2 separate regions of the Homo sapiens genome follow, and region 2 is linked to region 1. The links come from fine-mapping of genetic effects on gene expression. A gene starts in region 1. The other region holds a variant in brackets. All regions are shown on one strand. Distances are between the middles of the regions.

Region 1 (2,911 bases):
GATAAACATGAAAGAAGGTATCATCAAACTACAACTCTCCTGGCCACCCAGACTAAAATCCACTGTGGAAACTATTCAGCCAGCCACCAAGGAGAGGCAGCAAAATATAGTGCTTAGATTTCAGAGCTCTGGATTTACACAGGCCTGTCTGAATCCCAGCTTCTTACTAGCTGAGATCTGAGGCAAGCTAAGTCGTCCAATCTGCAGTTTCTCCCGCTGTAAAATGGGAATAACCCCCACCCCAGAGGACTGTTAACAGTGTGAAGACACTGTACATAAAGCTCTCCAAACAGTGCGTGGCATGTAATAAAAGCTCAATAAATGTCAGCTATTTGTCATTCTTTTCAGCTATAATTTCGTTCACAAAGCCTACTGCCTTTCTAGCTTCCATATAATTTTAAAGACATTCCTCCAGCCTTTTCATTTTCGAGGGATCTTTTATACAGCAGCTTAGAGCACACTTTCTAGTATCAGACTTCCTGCGAAAACCATTTGAAAACCTGTGCCTCGGGCTCCTCATCTGTGAAACGAGCCTGATAACACCTACCCCACAGGACTGCTGGTAGTAAGCAGTCCCCGAGTTACCCAACCTATCAACAGTATATGATTAAAACGCACTTGGGGAAAAGCAAAGCTGCAACTCTCAAACCCCAAACGACAGTCTTAATCCCAGTCCCACCACCACGATAGTGCCCAGAACCAATCACCAAGGTCGACCCACCTCACGCACCTAGTTTCTTCTCACCCCACGCAGCAACAGCCCCTCCCGCCCCGCCAAACAAGGGTTTTCCGAAATCGCAGGGCTGAGTCTCCTTCCACGGACACCGCACTGCTGGGGCCGCGGCAGAGCCCTCTTAATTCAAGGGGGTGGCCTCCCCACCCCGCCCCACAGCGCCGGGAGGCACGCAGTGCATCCTCCCTGCCTGGTCAGCGCCGCCCCACGCCGTTCGCGCTGCAGCTCCCGGCTCGCGTGGGCTCAGGGCCGAGGCCCCACGTCAGCCGCTTCCCGGACCCCAGCGGGCCGCCTCCCACCCTGCTCGCCGCTGCTCCTGGTGCCGCGGGCCGCCCGCGCGCACACCCAGCGGTCAGGTGCGGCGCCGACGACAGGGTCCCAGGCCCCGAGGCTGGGGAGCCCCTCGGGCCCAGCCGAACCGCACGCGGAGGCCGCGCCGCCAACCGGCTCCCGCCGCTCCCACAACCGGCGCCGCACTCACCGCTACGCCGGAGTCCGGGTTCCTCCGGCCTCGGGCCCGCGCAGGCCTGGCTGAGCCCCAGAGCGTTCACGCCCCGCGCCGCCGCCCGGGGATCCTGGCGCAGCTGTCGGGGCCGCAATGCGAGGGGACGAACGTATGCGACCCCGTCCAACGCCTCCTCGTCCCGGCCCCGGCCGCGTAGACAACTGCAGTGTCGCAGCCCGGCGCAGCCACAGCAGCGTCTGTTGAGCGGAACCGCCTGGGACGCTCACCCCCGGCCGGCACTCGTTGCCTATGCAGAGAGGCTGCCACCCATTGGCCCGCGAGCGGTGGCGCGTGCGGGGCTGGGCCTATCGAATTCGGGCCGGGGAGCGCGGCGCTGGCGGCCCGGGGCGGGGCGAGGTTACTACGGGTCATTCCGCGGAGCCGCCGCGGACCGGACCTGGCTGCAGTCTGCGCGGGGCGGGGGCGGGAACGGGGTCGACCAGGAGGGACGGACCGCGGGTGGGGGAGGGGAGCGGGGATCTGCGGCAGCGACGTGGGAGGAGCGGCTAGCCCAATAGGGTCTGCAGGAGCTCCGTCCCTCCAGGAAAAAACACCCCTCCACCAAAAAAAAAAAAAAAAAAATTACAGTCGCACAATTATTGCTGTAATGTATAAATTTCAATATAAATTATGAAATAGTATGCATATTCTTTTTCGTTTTTAACTGGATTAGTTATCCCGTTCTTGCAGAAATTGCTGTCAAATCCTGCCAAATAAAATGGCTTTTGGAACTGCCTGGGGCAAGAAGAGCCTCAAAAACTCAAAGCTTATCCATTATCATTTCTCTTGTTTTGGCCTCACTTGACCTAGCATATAACCCGTTTTCCTCTAAATGCACTCACCATGCAAATTTGCTATTTCTTTTCAAAAAATAAAGTTTACTCCAAATTATTGTTTTTGAACGTTCTTAGGAATCCACAGTGGTTCTGTATTTTAAGGAGTTTGCCATTGTTTCTCGTTTTAGACACTAAACAAGGATAAGAAAGAAAGCATCCAGTGCAGGTAGTAGAACTACATGTACTGTAAGAGAGAAGATTTTCACTCACCCAGTACTAGTAGGATTGGTCTCTTTTTTTAACCCAACATATTGTTTAGTTTGCCTGTGAACTTTTCCTTAAGTAGGTGAAAGGTTGCCTTCCTGAGCCAGCCTCAGGCTAAAGCAGGCCTCATTTCCCAAGAGAATCAAAATCAGGAAGCCGCCAGAACTTGAACTAGGTGGAGCGATGATGCACCAAGCAAAGAGAGCTCACTCACCGTGGGCCAAGGGCCAATCGAGAACCTAAAGGGATGGATACCTGACTCAGGCAAACTGTTCTCCCACTTCAAAATATGGCAGTTCAGTTGCTCATTAATCTGTTGAAATCTTATCAAAGGATACATCCTGAAGATAAATGGAATGCAGAATTTCTTATCTGAAAAGACATTCGCAGCTCTGCAGAGAGAAGCAGGCTTTAGAAGTAGTACTTCTAGAACCATGAAATCCTCTGGAAAATACTGGTTTTTTTCCGAGAGAAGAAAACTAATATTGCACCTTTTTATCTATCCATAAGCCTAAAACAGACTAGAAGAATTCCAACAATATCTTTCTTCATTATCTTTATATTATGGAATATATATTATGGATATGGACCTATATTTAAAAGAAAATGGTCCTGGGAATTAAAATTCTAAAT
Region 2 (2,892 bases), 85 kb before region 1:
TCTTCCTGAAGAAATCTCAACCCGCGTCTCTTGAGTATTTTCTAAGGTCAGATTCCTAGATGTGGAATTAGTGGGCAAACCATAGGAACTTTTTTAAGCCTCTGGTGCATCTCACTTTCCTACATGAGGTGAACTGCTGATGTGCTGAACAGGGTAAAAACAGATTTGGGTGGCTATTTTTGACCATGGCTACCAAAAAGCCATCTTTTCTTACATTTGTGGAAACGTTTAAAAGAATTCTAAGGCCGGGAGCGGTGGCTCACGCCTGTAATCCCAGCACTTTGGGAGGCCAAGGCGGGTGGATCACCTGAGGTCCGGAGTTCGAGAACAGCCTAGCTAACATGGTGAAATCCCGTCTCTACTAAAAATATAACATTAGCTGGGTGTGGTGGCAGGTGCCTGTAATCCCAGCTACTCAGGAGGCTGAGGCAGGAGAATCACTTGAACCGGGAGATGGAGGTTGTAGTGAGCTGAGATCGTACCACTGTACTCCAGTCTCGGCCACAGAGTGAGACACTGTCTCAAAAAAAAAAAAAAGAAAACAGAAAAAAAATTCTCGGAGTTCTTGCCCCAATGCTCTCAAGACATCCAAAACATTCAAACCAAGAGAGGACTGGAGTGAGGATGGCGTTAGTGCTAAGGCTGAGCAGAGAGGTATTATACAGGGCAGGCAGAGCATCTAGCAGAATAAGGGACTGTGCCCTGGCCACTCATGGAGGTCCTCAGATGGGGTGACTCACAGCGGGGTTGGGAGCTTTGAGGACAGCACATTGCTGGGTTGTTAGAGCTGGATGTTTTATATGTGAGCACCTTCCCACACAACACCATTCCTTTCCCGCCAGGCCTGAAGCCCCATCCTTCCAGGCCCCCATTAAAGGCATTAGGACTTTTAAGTCTTCAACATCCTCCTTTTCCCAGATTCCAGACAAGGGCCTTCTGAGCGATAACAGGGCCCAGAATATGGCCATGGGGTTGACAAAGTGGCAGGGCTAGGCAGCGCGTTGGAGCTATAGGCTTCTATACATAAACATTTTGAAAGTTGGGGCATCAAATTATTTGGACAACATAGTTGTTTTTCATTTCTATTTTGAGGAAAAATGTGGAATTTTGCCTTTATCACAGAACAAATCTTGCAAAGCTATGTTCTTCTGATAGCTATAATCTTTTTTCTTGGGAGTCAGGGGTGGGGAAGGCATACATACAGCCCTCCTAATAAACCCTCATCCTGTGCCACTCTCTTATACCTTTTGTATTCTTAATATGATTATGGTCATGAAGAAAAATCAAAGTGAATGATTTACTTCTACATGTTTCATGATAAAATACAAACCCTTTACAAAGAAATACTGATAGATATAAGCCACATAAACAAACATTCTGGAGTTCTCAATAATTTATTTCAGAACATAAAGAGGTCCTGAAACCAGAAAGTTTGAGAACTACTGCCTTAATCAACATGAGAAAAATCATACAGGTGAGAAATCCTGTGAACATAAAGTATCTAAAATCTCTAAAGACTGCTCCTCCTTTGTTCAACATGTGAGAGTTCATGTAAGTTAAAAAACCAAAAACCTACGAATATAAAGAAGGAGGGGAAATCTTAAGCAAAAAGCGTCGTTTAGTAACCAGTAAAGAATTAATACTGGAGAAACTCCACAAATGTGGTCAATGTGGAGAATTTTTCCCTTGTAGCTCGCCTGGATTAAACACGAAAGAACTCACACTGGGAAGAAACCTACAAAGGCAGACGGTGTGG[G/C]AAAACCTGTAGCTATAGCTCTTCGCTCTCTCAACATGAGAGGGTACATTCCAGAGAGAAAAACTGTAAGTGCACTAACATGGAAAAACTTTCAGCATCAAAACATTCATATGGGAGACAAACCTTGTTTCTATAAAAGTAATCCACGCAGAAAAGTCACTTTTTTATAGAACAAAAAACCCACACAGAACAACCTTTCTTCAGAAACAAATGAGAATGAATCTAAGAAAAAAATCACCAAATGCAGGAAGTTGCTTTTGAATGAATCCCACCAAAGGGAACACAATTCAAAATCACTAAATAAAGACACTAATGGGGAAGGGTTTGCTGAAAAGCATTTTGGAAAATCCAAACCAGAAATAGGCATGTAACATTAGAGGATACGTATGCACTGTTATAATAATTTCGTTAACACTTCAAATTCACTCAAAACCAGTTACTGAACACCTCCTCTGGGGGCCATGCATGCACCATGTTAAGGCATCTGGTTTACAGAGGCGATTCTGAAATGGACAGGCCCTTGCAGACTATATGCTTGCATGTGGACCAACTAATTAGGAGGAAATCAGAGGCAGATTTTATCAGATTGAAGATAATGTTATTACATAAATCAGACTATAGATCTGCATATAACCGGTTTCACGTTATGCCATAAAAACCATTCCATGACACTATAGACCAGCCTCATCCTAAAATCATTTGCATATTTGGTGTGGTAGAAATATTGTTACCAATGTTTAAAAGAATAACCTGAGCAAAGTTAATGAGGAGAAATTAGGCACAACTGTCTAAGTTAATGCAAAACACACAAAGATGCCAAATGTTTATGTAAAGAAAGCTTTAACTGGTTTTGTTACAGGATTACACACAGAGACAAAAGTATGCTATGATAAAGTTACATATACCCACAAATATTGACTGGCAGTCAAAGATGGGGTGGGTGAGGGAGGTTAGTTTCTGAAACACAGCATGATACAACTCTTCCTCCCACAATTATTGGATTAAATGTTGGCACAAAGTTTAGATATTTCTGCCACATTGTAGATTCTACCCCATTAATTTTGATGCCAAATTTCAATTTACCACCTCTATTCAAGATTTTATGCTGTATGAATATTTTGGAATTTAAAATGCTG

Evidence for each region. PIP is the estimated chance that this variant, and not a neighbour inherited with it, causes the effect. A credible set is the group of variants that fine-mapping cannot tell apart.
Region 2: its variant is the best candidate, but not a certain one, in a credible set for the expression of ACSL3 in whole blood (INTERVAL, PIP 0.74).

The regions. Positions count from the first base shown.
Region 1 is chr2:222,859,562-222,862,472 of GRCh38, reverse strand. It overlaps ACSL3 (acyl-CoA synthetase long chain family member 3), which reads right to left and starts at 1,437. Exons shown (of 17, transcript NM_004457.5): 1 at 1,215-1,437. RefSeq lists silencers at 942-1,311, 1,382-1,711 and an enhancer at 1,428-1,722.
Region 2 is chr2:222,944,930-222,947,821 of GRCh38, reverse strand. It overlaps the pseudogene LOC100419511. Among named protein-coding and RNA genes, the nearest start is that of ACSL3-AS1, 27 kb to the right of the region's middle. The variant G/C (reference allele first, on the strand shown) is at 1,757.